Linked DNA regions of Homo sapiens: region 2 is linked to region 1. Evidence: fine-mapped expression QTL. A gene starts in region 1. The other region holds a variant in brackets. All regions are shown on one strand. Distances are from middle to middle.

What was found.
Region 2: its variant is fine-mapped to the expression of SLC25A18 in fibroblasts (GTEx, PIP 0.92).

Annotation. Positions count from the first base shown.
Region 1 is chr22:17,558,041-17,567,218 of GRCh38, reverse strand. It overlaps SLC25A18 (solute carrier family 25 member 18), which reads right to left and starts at 3,721. Exons shown (of 11, transcript NM_031481.3): 1 at 3,506-3,721. It overlaps LOC105372850 (a long non-coding RNA gene), which reads left to right. Exons shown (of 3, transcript XR_001755420.2): 2 at 2,716-2,950; 3 at 3,106-3,522. It overlaps CECR2 (CECR2 histone acetyl-lysine reader), which reads right to left. Exons shown (of 19, transcript NM_001290047.2): 19 at 9,068-9,178. RefSeq lists a silencer at 3,656-3,950.
Region 2 is chr22:17,621,934-17,631,111 of GRCh38, reverse strand. It overlaps ATP6V1E1 (ATPase H+ transporting V1 subunit E1), which reads left to right and starts at 2,363. Exons shown (of 9, transcript NM_001696.4): 1 at 2,363-2,509. The coding sequence starts at 2,477. It also overlaps a transcript of BCL2L13 not described here. RefSeq lists enhancers at 2,238-2,407, 2,349-2,438, 2,519-2,668. The variant A/G (reference allele first, on the strand shown) is at 4,886.

The DNA.
Region 1 (9,178 bases):
GCCTGGCACATAAAAGGTATTCACATGCTAATTCTTTGTAAAATATACATTATTTTTGAGACAGTGTCTTGCTCTGTCGCCCAGGCTGGAGCGCAGTGTCGTGATCATGGCTCACTGCAGCCTTGACCTTCTGAGCTCAAGCCATCCTCTCACCTCAGCCTCCCAAGTAGCTGCGATTACAGGCATGCCACTATGCCTGGCTAATTTTTGTTATTTCTTTGTAGAGACGCGGTTTTGCCATGTTGCCCTAGGCAGGTGTACAACTCCTGACCTCAAGCCATCTGCCTGCCTCAGCCTATCAAAGTGCTGAGATTACAGGTGTGAGCCATCACGGCCGGCCCATGCTAATTTTCTTCCCACCTTTTCTGGTGGGCAATGGAAAGCTGATAGAGGATGCTATGGAGTAGGGACCCGACGGGACAGTTCAGGTCTCTGGCAGTGCCAAGTGGTTTGGACAAGTCAGGGAGATTACACAGTAAGCTAGGCAAAAGAGAAAATGACAGGCTGGGCCAGGCACGGTGGCTCGGGCCTGTAATCCCAGCACTTTGGGAGGCTGAGGTGGGCGGATCACCTGAGGTTGGGAGTTCGAGACCAGCCTGACCAACGTGGAGAAACCCCGTCTCTACTAAAAATACAAAATTAACTGGGCATGGTGGCACATGCCTGTAATCCCAGCTATTTGGAAGGCTTAAGCGGGAGAACCGCTTGAACCCGTGAGGCGGAGGTTGTAGTGAGCCGAGATTGCGCCATTGCACTCCAGCTTGGGCAACAAGAGCGAGGCTCCAGTTGGAAAAAAAAAAAAGAAAATGACAGCCTGCTCACAGGAGGGAAGAGATGTGAATGGTTTCTGTGAAGATTATACAGGGCTTGGTGGGTGATTAAACACGCCAGAGGCAGGTATCAGATTTGAAACACGCATCAGCAGGAGGAAGATACATTATCCCCCCACTGAGAGTGTTAGAAGCAGGGGGTAGGTAAGGAGACGGGGAGGGAAGAGAAGTTTGGCAGCTGACATGAGCTTAAAGTAGCAGTTGCAGATGAGGGGGTGACAGCAGGCACCAGAAACAGCGGTGCAGTGCCGTGTCACACCCACAAGCATGGTTCAAAAAAATAGAGATCGGCATTGGTGCGGATGTAGAGAATTGGAACCCTTGCTGGTGAGAATGTAAAACACGGCAGCCATGGTGGAAGACAGTATGGCAGGTCCTCAAAAAAGTAAACACAGAGGCCAGGTGCGGTGGCTCACGCCTGTAATCCTTGTGCTTTGGGAGGCTGAGGTGGGAGGATCACTAGAGCCTGGGAGTTTGAGACCAGCCTGGGAAACATCCAAGACCCCATCTCTTTATTTTTTGAGACGGAGCTTCACTCTTGTTGCCCAGGCTGGAGTGCAATGGCACGATCTCGGCTCACTGAAACCTCTACCTCCTGGGTTCAAGTGATTCTCCTGCCTCAGCCTCCGGAGAAGCTGGGATTACAGGCATGCCCCATCATGCCCGGCTAATTTTGTGTTTTTAGTAGAGACGGGGTTTCTCCATGTTTGTCAGGCTGGTCTTGAACTCCCCACCTCAGGTGATCTGCCTGCCTCGGCCTCCCAAAGTGCTGGTATTACAGGCGTGAGCCAACACACCTGTCCAAAAATTTTTTTAAAAAATTACTCAAAAAAACCCCAAACAAAAAATTAGCCAGGCGCTGCGGTGTGTGTCTGTAGTTCTAGCTACTTGGGAGGTCGAGGAAGGAGGATCATTTGAGCCCTGGGGTTGGAGGCTGCAGTGAGCTATGATCATACCACTGCACTTCAACTTGGCAAGACCCTATCTCTATTAAAAAATAGAAAATTTGGCAGGGCGTGGTGGCTCACGCCTGTAATCCCAGCACTTTGGGAGCCCGAGGTGGGTGGATCACGAGGTCAGGAGATCGAGACCATCCTGGCCAACATGGCAAAACCCCGTCTCTACTAAAAAATACAAAAAATTAGCTGGGTATAGTGGCAGGCACCTGTAGTCCCAGCTACTCGGGAGGCTGAGGCAGGAGAATGGCGTGAACCCGGGGGGGCGGAGTTTACAGTGAACCGAGATTGTGCCACTGTACTCCAGCCTGGGTGACAGAGCAAGACTGTCTCAAAAACAAAACAAAACAAAACAAAACAAAAACAGAATGAGTCTGCACAGAGTGACAAATGAGGCTGCAGGCAGAAATAAGAGCATCCCGAGGGAGGGCTCCTGGGCTCAAGCGATCCACCCACCTCACCCTCCTGAGTAGCTGGGATCACAGGTGCACACCATCAACCTGGCTAATTAAAACAATTATTTTTTTGTAGAGGTGGGGCCTCATTATGTTGCCTGGGCCTGATTTTTTTTTTTTGGAGACAGAGTCTTGCTCTGTCCCCCAGGCTGGAGTGCACTGGCTCAATCTTGGCTCACTACAACGTCCATCTCCCAGGTTCAAGTGAGTTTCCTGCCTCAGCCTCCCGAGTAGCTGGGACTACCACACCTGCTACCACGCCTGGCTAATTTTTTGTATTTTTAGTATAGATGGGGTTTCACGTTAGCCAGGATGGTCTCCATCTCTTGACCTCGTGATCCGCCCGCCTTGGCCTCCCAAAGTGCTGGGATTACAGGTGTGAGCCACCGCGCCCCAGCCAACTTAAGTCCTTTCTAAAAATTTTTTTTACTTTATATAAACTGTTTGTATTCTTTTTTCTATGCTATGCCTCAGGTTTGAAGATGTTCAGCTCAGATTACCTGCATCTAAGGACCAAAATGTAAATGCCAGGGCCATTCTTCCAGGTCAGTTTGCATCAGAACCATGCAGGTTGCATCTGTTGCTAGTTACAAGAGAGAGCTAGGCCCTTCTTCAGTTTAAGGTCTTAGGCGGGATGCCAAAATCTGCATTTCCAGCAAGTTCCCAGATGATGGCCAGGCTACATTGTGAGAACATCACAATAGATCATGTGAGTGAGAATGATCAGGGCAGGCTGAGGTGGTGGGGAGAGGAACACCATCACTTCTCCCAAGCTGCAGTTTCTGCAGATCTACGCTGCCTTTGGGAAATGTTTAGCATCACACTGGACATAATTACTTGCGCTGCATTTTCTGAATTACACAGTCTTCGTCTTAGAGTGGAGCCAGGGCAAAAGAGGAATTCAAGCTGGAACAAGGAGTCCGAGAAGACGCGACTGCTGGACAGAACAAGCGATGAAGCCAGTCCCCAAACTGATGAGCCCGCAGCTCCATCCAAATTAAATGGGCTGAGAACACCAACACTCCACCCTCCCGGTACGATTGCATGGCAGGGAGGAACCAAAAATATTTTTCCTTCATCTGCTATCTCAGCTAAGCAGTACACTCTTTCTAGCACCTCACTAGAGTCCAGTTTTTCTGTATTCTGTATTCACAATACAGGTTTATTATGAACTCTGAGCAGATGAGGCTATTTTTCCCCCTTTTGGTTTCTTAGTAACTAGGCAAAGTACAAGGCTCACGGTGGGTATTTAATAAATACTTACTGACAACTTGCCTGCAAGCGAGTCGACGTTCATCTCAGTTGTTGAGGCACTCACGGGCCAGGCTTCACTCGACTCTTCTCACTGCCTACTCAGTTCCTTCTCAAAGCAAAGCCCGTGGATATATCCAAGGAACTGGCTTCATTGCTTTTAAAAATTCTGTCCAGCTTTAACTGGCTAGAATAGGGGTCCTCGTCCTTGTCATATGCTGTCCAGAATGAAGTCCAAATCCAGGATTCTGGGAGCATGTCATGCTTTCTCGAACCTGCAGGAGTCTCAAGGGCACCTGCATTGATATGCATGTCATGGCTGTAGAAGGGGGCTGGCATTGCAGCACACAATAGCCAAATCTGGGGATTTTCCAGATGCCTTCGCCTTCTTGGCTAGTATTTTTCACTGAAGGTTTTTTATAAAACTGCTTAAGGAAACTAGGGGAGTGAGCATTGCTAGCAGAAAGGGGACTAAAATAGATGCACAGAGGTCCCTTAAAAGTCCAAAGGAACACCACGAGGCCAGGGAAACATCTGCAGGGTCAATGCAGAGAAATCAACAGCAGTTGTGGGGGAGGACAGTGAAGGCAGCCACACAGCAGGCAGCTGCTGCTGGGTCACCCAGGGCTCTGCCGCGGCTCCATGAGCGCCCAGAAGGAAAGGTCCCATGATACCTCTTGCATAACAACTGCATGACATAGGCCGTTCACCTTCCAGGAAGATTCCAGGGTAAAGATCAGCCCCCAAATAGCCCGTCTGGATGGTTATTTTCTCAATTCCGTTGGTAGCACTCTCAGAGAACATAGAGTATAGCAAAATGGAGCCCACAAAGGGGCTGATTTATAAAACTTGCGTTGCCTTTCCTTCCAGTAACACGAATTGGTTTAGAGACAAGAGACATTAATCTTTAACAAGAGAAGCACCTATGGATGTCTCCAAATGTCAAAATAGAAAGTTGATCAGAACTTTTGAGACTAATCTACAGTAACAATGTATAGCTTCCTGTCTCCCTAAATCTTGCCCGAGTAGCTTTTATGCTCTTATTTTAAGAAGCTCACTGTGTAGGATTATCTGTGTAAGATATATTTACCCAGGATGCTTAACAAGCGTTAAACAGTAACAGTTCCAAAAATAGAGCCACATTTACACTGCCTACTGCACTGTTTTGAAACAGTTAACCAGTGGAAGATGCTAACTTTTGGTACATATATTTGTTGCTGGTTTTGGCCCGAAGAAGATAAATCTGGAAGCACTCTAAATGGCTAAGTTCCTTATAAAAAATAAAGGCCGGGCACAGTGGCTCACGCCTGTAATTCCTAGCACTTCGGGAGGCTGAGGCAGACAGATCACTTGAGCTCAGTTCTAGACCAGCCTGGGCAACATCGTGAGACAAAAAATTAGCTGGGTGTGGTGGGGTGCCCCTGTAGTCCCAGCTGCTTGGGAGGCTGTGGTGAGAGGACTGCTTGAGCCCGGGAGATTGAGGCTGCAGTGAGCTGAGACCATGCCACTGTACCTAGCCTGGGCAACAGAGTGAAACCCTGTCTCAAGAAAAATTAAAGCCTATCTTTTTTTTTTTTTTTCATGTTGTGAGAATTTAATAAGTCAATGAACATAAGGTGCTTAGAACCAAGCTTAGGGTATGGAAAACAGAGAATAGATGTTTCTTGTTATTCTTTTTTTTTTTTTAATTTATTTTTTTATTGATAATTCTTGGGTGTTTCTCACAGAGGGGGATTTGGCAGGGTCATGGGACAATAGTGGAGGGAAGGTCAGCAGATAAACAAGTGAACAAAGGTCTCTGGTTTTCCTAGGCAGAGGACCCTGCGGCCTTCCGCAGTGTTTGTGTCCCTGGGTACTTGAGATTAGGGAGTGGTGATGACACTTAACGAGCATGCTGCCTTCAAGCGTCTGTTTAACAAAGCACATCTTGCACCGCCCTTAATCCATTTAACCCTGAGTGGACACAGCACATGTTTCAGAGAGCACAGGGTTGGGGGTAAGGTCACCGATCAACAGGATCCCAAGGCAGAAGAATTTTTCTTAGTGCAGAACAAAATGAAAAGTCTCCCATGTCTACTTCTTTCTACACAGACACGGCAACCATCCGATTTCTCAATCTTTTCCCCACCTTTCCCGCCTTTCTATTCCACAAAACTGCCACTGTCATCATGGCCCGTTCTCAATGAGCTGTTGGGCACACCTCCCAGACGGGGTGGTGGCCGGGCAGAGGGGCTCCTCACTTCCCAGTAGGGGCGGCCGGGCAGAGGCGCCCCTCACCTCCCGGACGGGGTGGCTGGCCGGGCGGGGGGCTGACCCCCCACCTCCCTCCCGGACGGGGTGGCTGCCGGGCGGAGGGGCTCCTCACTTCTCAGACGGGGTGGTTGCCAGGCAGAGGGTCTCCTCACTTCTCAGACGGGCCGGCTGGGCAGAGACGCTCCTCACCTCCCAGACGGGGTCGCGGCCGGGCAGAGGCGCTCCTCACATCCCAGACGGGGCGGCGGGGCAGAGGCGCTCCCCACATCTCAGACGATGGGCGGCCGGGCAGAGACGCTCCTCACTTCCTAGATGGGATGGCGGCCGGGCGGAGACGCTCCTCACTTTCCAGACTGGGCAGCCAGGCAGAGGGGCTCCTCACATCCCAGACGATGGGCGGCCAGGCAGAGACGCTCCTCACTTCCCAGACGGGGTGGCAGCCGGGCAGAGGCTGCAATCTCAGCACTTTGGGAGGCCAAGGCAAGCGGCTGGGAGGTGGAGGTTGTAGCGAGCCGAGATCACGCCACTGCACTCCAGCCTGGGCACCATTGAGCACTGAGTGAACGAGACTCCGTCTGCAATCCCGGCACTTCGGGAGGCCGAGGCTGGCGGATCACTCGCGGTTAGGAGCTGGAGACCAGCCCGGCCAACACAGCGAAACCCCGTCTCCACCAAAACCAGTCAGGCGTGGCGGCGCGTGCCTGCAATCGCAGGCACTCGGCAGGCTGAGGCAGGAGAATCAGGCAGGGAGGTTGCAGTGAGCCGAGATGGCAGCAGTACAGTCCAGCTTCGGCTCCGCATGAGAGGGAGACCGTGGAAAGAGAGGGAGACCGTGAGGAGAGGGAGAGGGAGAGGGAGAGGGAGAGCTAAAGCCTATCAATAGCTAAATATGTCAAAAAACATTCTGGCCTTTGTTTGGTGAGAATTCATGTCACGGTAGGAGGAAATCTGAAAGTTAGGAATCAAAGTTTGCATGCATTTTAAGGGTGTGCTGCTGATATGCACAGGGAGTGGGTTTGCTAACGCCATCCCAGCCACTGATGCAGCTGGACTGGGCTCTAGGAAAGCTGACAGAACAGTGAAGGAAGCCAGGCCAGAGTGGTGCTCCCCCCACCCACTGGGAGAATCCATCGAGATGCACAATTTGAGTAGCATCATGTCTGATCTGGGGTTTACTAGTGATTTTTTAAGACAGGATCTCACACTCTTGCCCAGGCTGGAGTGCAGTGGTGCGATCTCTGCTCACTGCAACCTCTGCCTGCAGGGTTTAAGCAATTCTCCTGCTTCAGCTTCCTAAGTAGCTGAGATCACAAGCGTGTGCCACCATGCCCGGCTAATTTTTGTATTTTTGGTAGAGACGGTTTCACCATGCTGGCCAGGCTGATCTCAAACTCCTGACATCAAGTGAGCCACCGTGCCCAGCCTGATTTTTCACTTTAAAGTTGATTTTTGTTTTGTTTCAGAAATTACACTGAAATGCAACTACTAAACAAGAAAGTACGGTTGGCATAAAATGTTTTATCATAGAAACACTTTTCATGGGAGAATAACTGAACAGTTTTAAAATAATACCAGGATAAAAGGCTCAAAAATTTGTTAGCCAGTAACAACAGAGTATCAGTGGGGACAATCAGACACCAAACAACTGGAGGTTAAAAGGAGAGTGAACAGATCACTGCCTAGAAAGGGACAGCCCCAAGCATGGGTTTGGAAACGGGTACTAATTGTGGTGAAATTTTTATGGAATGAGGATTACTTCCACAGCCAATTACAGATGCTCCTCAGCTTCCAGTGGGGTCACCTCCGGATAAACCCATCATGAGTTGAAAATATTGTCAGCTGGAAATGCACTGAATCCACCTAACCCACCAAATATCACAGCTTAGCCTGCCTCAAGCATGCTCAGCAAACTTATGCTAGCCCACAGTTGAGCCTCCTTTTTTATTTTTATTTTTGAGACGGAGTCTTCCTGTCGCTCAGGCTGGAATGCAGTGGCGCGATCTTGGCTCACTGCAACCTCCGCATCCCAGCTTCCAGCGATTGTCCTGCCTCAGCCTCCCAAGTAGCCAGGATTACAGGCACCCGCCACCACGCCCCGCTAATTTTTGTGTTTTTAGTAGAGGCAGGCTTTTGCCATGTTGGCCAGGCTGGTCTCGAACTCCTGAGCTCATATGATCTACTTGCCTTGGCCTCCCAGAGTGCTGGGATTACAGGTGTGAGCCAGCACACCTGGCTGAGCCTCCTTTATCACACAGTGTTGAATATGTCATGGAGTTTATTGAATACCGTACAGAAGGTGAAAGAGAATTGTTGCACGAGGACTTCAAGTACAGTTTCTGCAGAATGTGTCTCATTTTCAAAAACTCCTAAGTTGAATGATCATTAAACTGGGACAGTCTGCATTTAAGGACAAAACAGGAGTTCTGGTGTCTTAAGACTGTAGCTGATTTCTAAGAATGTAGCTACTTTCTTTTTTTGGGACACAGTCTCACTCTGTCACCCAGGCTGGAATGCAGTGGTGCGATCTCGGCTCACTGCAAGCTCCGCCTCCCGGGTTCACGCCATTCTCCCGCCTCAGCCTCCCGAGTAGCTGGGGCTACAGGTGTGTGCCGCCACGCGCGGCTAATTTTTTGTATTTTTAGTAGAGACGGGGTTTCACCGTGTTAGCCAGGATGGTCTCGATCTCCTGACCTCGTGATCCGCCCGCCTCAGCCTCCCAAAGTGCTGGGATTACAGACGTGAACCACCGCGCCTGGCTGAATGAAGCTACTTTCAAACTGTTCTCCCAGTAACTGGAAATAAAACATAAATGACCTTGGCAGGTATAAGATTGCCCGCTTGCTTAGGCTGGAGCTCCCACTTCTGGCCATGTGTGTGCACAGCGGGCTCCAGGCTGGAGCTGCCCCGCTGCCCCACTGTTATACTCCTTTCCCATCCCAGGCACCCTAAAGCCTGCAAGGAGAGAAGTCGTGCACCTCAGGTGTAGTAACCTTCTGAAGGCGGACGCCTTTACCAGTGAGATGCTGACGGCCGGGCCAGCTTCGCAAGGATCGGCTGTGAGGAGCGTTTTATCCCTGACATGGTTTAGAACTGCCAGTCAGTACATGACTGTTTTGAAGTTCTCTGGAACCATATTCCTCTGTCTCATGCACAGGACCCGTGCCCCGCCTCCGTGGATTCTGGATGCATGAGAATGGACGAGGGGTGGCATTTCAGCTGGTGGCCTTGTGGCCTAGTTCACGCCTTCGTCCTGATGGAAGTCTGGGTTTGCCCTGATATGGAAATGACACATGGACAGACACACCACACACACAGAGGAGCCTTGCTATTTTAAGCATGTACTTTATACAAAATAACCAGTTCATATGGAAATAAATCTACAGACCTCCAAGGATCAAAAAGCTTTTTAAAAAGTTCTTTTAAAAAATTATCC
Region 2 (9,178 bases), 64 kb before region 1:
AAAAAATTGAGTGATTTTCTACAACTGGCCTATATTCTTCAAAATGTCACTATCAAGAAAGATAAGTCTGAGGAAACTCTTCCATATTAAAGGAGACTAAAAAGACATGATCACTAATGCAGTAAGTGACCCTGGATCCAATCCAGGTTATAAAGGTTATAAAGTAAGGTTATAAGAAGGTTATAAAAGGTTAAAAAGTAAGGTTATTAAAAAAAGGTTATGGCTGGGCGCGGTGGCTCACGTCTGTAATCCCAGCACTTTGGGAGGTGGAGGCAGGCAGATCACCTGAGGTCGGGAGTTCAAGACCACCCTGGCCAATGTGTTGAAACCCCATCTCTACTAAAAATGCAAAAATTAGCTGGGCGTGGTGGCAGATGCCTGTAATCTCAGCTACTGGGGAGGCTGAGGCAGGAGAATCAATTGAACCCGGGAGGCGGAGGTTGTGGTGAGCCGAGATTCTGCCACTGCACTCTAGCCTGGGCAACAGAGCGAGACTCCATCTCAAAAAAAAAAAAAAAAAGAAAAGAAAAAGAAGGCCGGGTGCAGTGGCTCACACCTGTAATCCCAGCACTCTCGGAGGCCGAGGCAGGTGGATCACGAGGTCAGCAGTTCAAGACCAGCCTGGCCAACACAGTGAAACCTCATCTCTACTAAAAATACAAAAATTAGCCATGCATGGTGGCAGGCACCTGTAATCCCAGCTGCTTGGGAGGCTGAGGGAGGAGAATCACTTGATCCCGGGAGGCAGAGGTTGTAGTGAGCTGACACCATGCCGTTGCACTGCAGCCTGGGCGACAGAGTGAGACTCTGTCTCAAAAAAAAAAGAAAGGGTTATAAAGTACATTGATGGATTGATGGGACAAAGGAATTTGTTTTTTTTTTTTTTGTTTTTTTGAGACGGAGTCTCACTCTTATTGCCCAGGCTGGAGTGCAGTGGCACGATCTTGGCTCACCGCAACCTCTGCTCCTGGGTTGAAGCAATTCTCCTGCCTCAGCCTCTCCAGTGGCTGGGATTACAGGCACACACCACCACGCCTGTTAATTTTGTATTTTTAGTAGAGACTGGGGTTTCTCCATGTTGGTCAGGCTGGTCTCGAAATCCCGACCTCAGGTGATCTGCCCACCTCAGCCTCCCAAAGTGGTGGGATTACAGGCGTGAGACACCGCGCCTGGCCCGGGACAAAGGAAATTAATGTTCAGCCTAGTAAACTAAATTTCCTGAATTTGCTACATCCTCGTTCTTATGACACACTAAAATAGGAAGTGTGTGTGTGTGTGTGTGTGTGTGTGTGTATGAAAATAAAGTGTTAATGTACATGTAGCAAAATGTTAACAATTGTTGAATCTAGGTGAAGGGAGGTCAATGCAGTATTCTTACAAGTTACTATATCTCAAATTTCTTCAAGATAAAAAGCTAATAAAAATGGTGGGTAACCATAGCACAGTAAAAAGAAAAAAGTGGGTGTACCATTTGACCTCTTATTCTACTATTAGGAGTCAGTCTATCCTAAAGATAAAGGAATTTTCAAAAGTTTTTGCCTTTGGGATTTTGGGGAAAAAAACGGGCTTGAGGTAAATCCAAATAAAAACAAATGAGCCTGGGGGGATTTCTGTCCTAATATTCCTCTAAATGGGACCTGGGAAGGCTTTTGAAAAATATATAGGCTATCTCAGAAAAGTTCCAAATAAATTATGTAGCTGCTCCACCCTAATAAGGAAGTTGAGCATAGCTTCCCACTCCCTAGGTGTGGGCTTTGTATAGTGGCTTCCTTCCTAAGACTACAGTATGGAAAGGGGGTTAAAAAAGGTAACTTCAGAGTGGAGAAACCTACAAACCCTACACTTTATTCAGGTAATCAAGGTTGACATGAATAGTCAGAAATCATGTATCCCCCTTTTTTTTTTCTTTTGGTAGAGACGGGGTTCCTCTATGTTGTCCAGCCTGGTCTCGAACTTGAGGTCAAGCGATACACCCGCCTTGGTCTCCCAAAGTCTCCGGATTGCAGGCGTGAGCCACCACGCCCGGCCAACAATCATGTACCCCTAAGCCCATAACCCTGTGTAATTATGCGAAAAATTCCAATAAAGGCACATTCTCCAATATACCTAACCAGTACTCCTCAAAACAGCCCGACTAATTTCAGATAGAGGAACTCCTTATCTTTTCTTCCTCCTACCCAAGATCCCAGTTTAGGAAAAAAATACCGGTCAGGTCACGAGTCAGCGACGTAGAAGGACCCGAGGACGCGCCCACAGGCCGGGACAGGGCGGGACTTCCTGGGCGTCGCTCTCTTCCCATTGGCTGAGAAGGGTCATGAGGATGAACTGTGCAGTCACCTGGCAGGAACCGGAACCCGCGGTTATAAAGTAAAGGAACCCGAGATCTGCGCAGGGGTTCCCTTTGCCGATTTCTCTCACCTCACCTTTCAAACCTAAACTCGAGCCTACTGTTCACCGGCCTAGCATTGCTCTCGCCATGGCTCTCAGCGATGCTGACGTGCAAAAGCAGGTGAGGGGCTTGGTTGGGTCTTACGAAGCCGCGGCGGCAGTCCCGGGGAGTGGGCTGGAGCCCGCCTAGGGAAGGCCGCGGGCCTTGAGCCGCCCAGATGCCGCAGGAAGGTCCCTTGCTCCAAGTCACCAGATCCAAGAGGTCGGCCTGAGGACGGAGATTTGCCCCGCAGCTCATGTGACTTTTGCTCGGGTCTTGGGCACTGCCCGCTTGCCTGCGCGCTGCCTTCTTGAACGCCCTGGCTCTTTGCCTCCCACCTCAGCATTCCCTGTTTTCCAAGGGTATTCACTGTGCCTAGTCGGACAGAGATCTGTGCAAGGATTGAAAACAGCCTTGTGGCCAGGGGCAGTGGCTCACGCCTGTAATCCCAGTATTTTGGGAGGCCGAGGCGGCCGGATCACCTGAGGTCAGGAGTCCGAGACTAGCCTGGCCAAAATGGTGAAACCCCGGTCTCTACTAAAAATAGAAAATTAGCCGGACGTGGTGGCGCGCGCCTGTAATCCCAGCTACTCGGGAAGCTGAACCCGGAGGCGGAGGTTGCAGTTAGCCGAGATCGCGCCTTTGCACTCCAGCATGGGCGACAGGGCGAGACTCCCTCTGGAAAAAGAAAAAAAAAAAACAAACCAGCCTTGTCACTTTTTTTTTTTTTAACCCTGAGGGAAATGCTTAAGGCTATATGATAGGAAACAGTGCGGAGGGAAGAGACCTGCTTCCAACCAGTGTTTTGACAAGGTCGTTCACTTTATGAACTGTGTTTTTTTCTTTTTTTCTTTTTTTTTTTTTTGAGACGGAGTCTCACTCTGTCGCCCAGGCTGGAGTGCAAGGGCGCGATCTCGGCTCACTGCAACCTCCGCCCCGGGTTCAAGTGATTCTCCTGCCTCAGCCTCCCTAGAAGCTGGGATTACAGACTCGCGCCCCAAGCCCGGCTAATTTTTGTATTTTTTTTAGTAGAGGCAGGGTCTCACCATATTGGCCTGGCTGGTCTTGAACTCCTGACCTCAGGTGATCTTCCCACCTGGGCCTCCCAAAGTGCTGGGATTACAGGCATGAGCCAACGCGCCAGGCCTGTATGTACTGTTAATCTTCATTTTGGGGAAGTCCCCTCTATCATAATGGATTGTAATGATTGGTCTCCCACTAATGTGTGTGTTAACATTTGTGAGATACAGGCTGGGGCCGGGCATGGTGGCTCACGTCTGTAATACCAGCACTTTGGGAGGCTGAGGAGGGCGGATCACCTGAGGTCAGGAGTTCGAGACGAGCCTGGCCAGCATGGTGAAACCCCATCTCTATTAAAAATACAAAAAATTAGCCGGGCATGGTGGCGGGCGCCTGTAGTCCCAGCTACTCGGGAGGCTGAGGCAGGAGAATGGCGTGAACCCGGGAGGCCGAGCGACCCTGGGCGGCAGAGCGAGACTCCCTCTCAAAAAAATAAAAAAAAAAAGATTGTCTGGGCCTAGTGGGGTGCGCCTGTAGTCCCAGCTACTCAGGAGGCAGAGGCAGGAGAATCGCTTGAACCCGGCAGGCGGAGGTTGCAGTGAGCCAAGATTGTGCCACTGCACTCCAGCCTGGGTGACAGAGTGAGACTCCATCTCAAAAAATTTTAATATTAATAAACACAAATACACGCCAGGTGTGGTGGCTCACACCTGTAGCCCCCAGCACTTTGGGAGGCTGAGGTGGGAGGATCGCTTGATCCCAGGAGTTCAAGACCAGCCTGGGCAACATAGACCTTATCTCTAAAAAATTTTTTCTTAAAAAATAAGCCAGGCTGTCTGGGCATGGTTGCTCATGCCTGTAATCCCAGCACTTTGGAAGGCCGAGGTGGGCATATCACCTGCGGTCAGGAGTTCCAGACCAGCCTGGCCAACGTGGCAAAACCCTGTCTCTACTAAAAATACAAAATTAGTGGGGCGTGCTGGCATATGCCTGTAATCCCAACTACTAGGAGGCTGAGGCAGGAGAATTTCTTGAACCCGGGAGGTGGAGGTTATGGTGAGGCGAGATCACACCATTGCTGCCTGGGCAACAGAGCGAGACTGTCTCAAAAAAAAAAAAAAATTGCCAGGTGTGGTGGGGCACACATGTGCTCCTAGCTACTTAGGGAGGCTGATGTGGGAGAATCATTTGAGCCCAAGGGGTCGAGGCTGCAGTGAGCTATGATCATGCCACTGTGCTCCATCCTGGGTGAGAGAGCAAAAGACCCTGTCTCTAAAAATATTAAATAAATAAACAAAATTGTGTCAAATGGAAGACCGCTTTTTCTTTTCTTTCTTTTTTTTTTTTTTTTTTTTTGAGACGAAGTCTCGCTCTGTTGCCCAGGCTGGAGTGCAGTGGCATGGTCTCCGCTCACTGCAAGCTCCACCTCCTGGGTTC[A/G]TGCCATTCTCCTGCCCCAGCCTCCCGAGAAGCTGGGACTTACAGGCGCCCGCCACCACGCCTGGCTAATTTTTTCTATTTTTTATTAGAGATGGGGTTTCACTGTATTAGCCAGGATGGTCTTGATCTCCTGACCTCGTAATCTGCCCACCTCGGCCTCCCAAAGTGCTGGGATTACAGGCATGAGCTACCGCGCCTGGCCAGGACCCCTTTTGCTTACATTTAGGAGCCTCAATGCCTAACGGTGTTTGGCACCAAGTAGATGTATCAGAGTTTATGGGAAAAAATTGTTGTGGAAGTCGTGAACCCACATCAGTTTTCAAAGTGTAATCAGTCCTGGGAAACTTTTTTTTTTTTTTTAAGTGCCATACCTTCAAGTCTGTAGGTATTAAGAATTTTGTCATGCAAAAGACTCTCAGGGGAATATAGTAGCAGTTTATAAGCCTATAACTAACAAATCAGAATCCTTGCATTTAGTAATCATATTGCCGATAGATTTTTCAGAGAAGGAAGTTTAAGGCTGCAGTTTTAATTTGCACATAGTTTAGAGAACTAAGTCCTTTTTTTTCTGAAGTACTGTGCTAGGAAAATTCTCTTACTAAAGCACACTCACTGTCTTATGAATCTTCTGAGATGAGCAATAAAATTTTTTCCTGGCCGGCTCACGCCTGTAATCCCAGCACTTTGGGAGGCCGAGGCGGGCAGATCACCTGAGGTTGGGAGTTTGAGATCACCTGAGGTTGGGAGTTTGAGACCAGCCTGACCAACATGGAGAAACCCTGTCTCTACTAAAATTCAAAATTAGCCGGGCGAGGTGGTGCATGCCTGTAATCTCAGCAACTTGGGAGCCTGAGACAGGAGAATCGCTTGAACCCAGAGGTTGCAGCAAGCCGAGATCATGCCATTGTACTCCAGCCTGGGCAACAAGAGTGAAACTCGGTCTCAAAAAAAAAAGTTTTTCGTTGGATGTTTCCATTTCCTTGAAAGTGTCTTTTCATTTTATTCTTAACCTAATATGCACTAAGACGAGTGGGTATTTCTTCTTCATTTTGTGGTTCTGCTAATGCCAAAGGGTAAATAGAGATGACAAAATTAGTATCTATGGAGAAGTTTAAGAAATCATACAATATTCTTACAGAACCAAAGGGTTTTTTTAAACCTTTTTCACTGCTTCTTCTGTTCACTGCTTCTTCTGCTTCTTTCAATATAGGAAAAGCTTGATGCAGTGGAAAAGTAAAATGCCCTCCATATACTCTTAGTGGCCACAGTGCTAATTCTCTCCCTCTTGTTCCCTTTCTTCCCTCCTTGTCATAATATATTGAAGACTAAGGCTTCCATAGGAAAAGCTAGTATAAAGATAAAGCTATAGTTCCTTGGAATCTAGATCAAAATGATTTTTTTTTTTTGAGATGGAGTCTTGCTTTGTCGCCTAGGCTGGAGTGCAGTGGCGCGATCTCAGCTTGCTGCAACCTCTGCCTCCTGGGTTCAAGCGATTCTCCTGTCTCAGCCTCTCCAGTAGCTGGGACTACAGGCGTATGTCACCACACCCGGATAATTTTTTTGTATTTTTAGTACACATGGGAATTCGCCACGTTGGCCAGGCTGGTCTTGAACCTCCGAAGTGGTGGGATTATAGGCGTGAGCCACTGCGCATGAGTTATTTTTTCTTTTTTTTGAGACAGTCTCGCTCTCTTGCCCAGGCTGGAGTGCCATGGCGTGATCTCAGCTCACTGCAGCCTCTGCCTCCCGGGTTCAAGCGATCCTCCTGCATCAGCCTCCTGAGTACCTGGGATTACTGGTGCCCGCCACCACACCCAGCTAATTTTTGTATTTTTAGTAGAGATGGGGTTTCACCATGTTGGCCAGGCTGGTCTCGAACTCCTGACCTCGTGATCTGCCCGCCTCAGCCTCCCAAAGTATTGGGATTACAGGTGTCAGCCACTGCACCCGGCCTATTTTTTATTTATGTAAAATTGAAAGAAGGAATCTTGTCTATTTCCTATAATCCTTCATGCTACATGAAAGCTCGATGAGGACAGTGTGTGTTGTTTACTGTATTCTCATAAGTAAATAGATGAAGCACCAAGCCCATAGTAGATGCTTAATAAATCCTGAATTTTCTGACTTCTCCATTGCATGAAAATATTTGTGTATATTTGCTTTTTTCCTGGGGAGTATGGTAATTTATTTCATCAAATTTACAAAGAAACCTGACTCTAAAAACCTTAATTACTGAGCAGGAAGAAGAAACTGTTTTTTTAAAGGTCAAATTTTCTGCCTTAGGGGTGGAGTTAAATGTCCTTAAAGGGTTGACTATATCTCTTCTTGGAACTCTTAAAAGAATATGATCATGTTAACTGTAAATAGGCTTCTGACCTGGGTTAGAATTAGCGCAGTTTGCTCTAGGCTGTGCTGGTCTGGTCAAATCTGGTAGCCAAGGGTGCAGCAGAGTGCTAAAGGCAGATAATCCAGGTCCGAATCAGGGTTCACCTTTAGAGGCCAAACTTGTAGCATTTATAAACACCGGTTTTGATTACTGTATTTAGTTAAATGACTTTTTTTTTTTTTTTGAGACAGAGTCTTGCTCTGTCACCCAGGCGTGATCTTGGCTTGCTGCAACCTCCACCTCCCAGGTTCAAGTGATTCTCCTCCATCAGCCTCCTGAGTAGCTAGGATTGCAGGCACCCGCCACCACGCCTGGCTAATTTTTGTATTTTTAGTAGAGACCAGGTTTCACCATGTTGGTCAGGCTGGTCTTGAACTCCTGACCTCGTGATCCACCCGGATTGGCCTCCCAAAGTGCTGGGATTACAGGCGTGAGCCCGGCTAGTTAAATGACTTAAAATTCCAGATAGAATAAGTTCAGTGAGACTTCAAACTAAACTTGTAGACACCATTACCATGACCCCTCTCCATACTCCCAAATTTGTGGAGCTGATCTTTTAAGCAAGGTCAGTGATTTCCCACACATCTAGGTCTGGATTAGGTACCCCAAGTATTTCAAGGCTCAAGATATTGTAAGTACCATGTTATCTATAACATAGGTTTGATCATCATAACTTTTTGTCTCCTTAAAAGTAGGATTGGAAACACGATGGTGGCCACAGAAGTTGGAATCCACTGAGTGTGTAACAACTCACCTGCCAAAATAAGAAAAAAAAGAAAAGTAGGGTGGCTCCAAGATTTTTGATAAAACAAAAAAACTGTCCCTTCTAAAATCCTCCTATATGTTTTTTGTTTCATTTTGTTTTGTTTTTTTTGAGACGGAGTTTCGCTCTTCTTGCCCAGGCTGGAGTGCAGTGGCACAATCTATGCCTACCACAACCTCCGCCTCCAGGTTCAAGTGATTCTCCTGCCTCAGCCTCCTGAGTAACTGGGATTACAGGCATGCACCACCACGCCTGGCTAATTTTTTGTATTTTTAGTAGAGATGGGGTTTCTCCATCTTGGCCAGGCTGGTCTCAAACTCCCAACCTCAGGAGATCTACCCACCTTGGCCTCCCAGGGTCTTGGGATTACAGGCATGAGCCACCATACCCAGGCAGTAGTGTTTTCTTTTCTTTCTTTTTTTTGTTTCATTATACTTTAAGTTCTGAGATACATGTGCAGAATGTGCACAGGTTTGTTACATAGTGATACGCGTGCCATGGTGGTTTGCTGCACCCATCAACCCATCATCTACATTAGGTATTTCTCCTAATGCTATCCCTCCCCTAGCTCCCCACCCAGTAGTGCTTTCTTAATTCGTTTTGGTACACCTATGTATACTTAAGATTTATGATATCTTGTGTTATATGGAGAAGCTGCTATGGGGATTGTTTACAGATTGTTAAACCCTAAAAAGTACCTGGGATACCTTGTATTCCTTAGAAGTCTTGAAACTCCCAACAGATTTGCATTCATTCACAAATTTTTTTGAGCATCTCCTATGGTGGTGGTTGTTCCATGTTCTGGGTTCACACTGGCATAAAAGACAAGATCCCTGTACTCAGTGGTGCTTACCTTTTAGTGGGATAATTAATAAACAAAATGAATTAATGACCTAAAGATCCTACGTCAATTTTTAGCTTTTTTTTCCTTTTTGGATTTCATCACTCCCTTAGGAAATGAAGCTACCATTGCATCCCACAACCAGTGAGTTTGATGAGCTGTGTCGGTTGGATTTTTACTTGGGTATATTTTATATCTGCCACAAGAGATGATACTTCATTTATGAGTCTAAGTTGGATTATTCCCCAAGCCCCATTCGGAAGCCTTCATTGGACTTTATTCTCCAATTGTAGCCGGTGATCT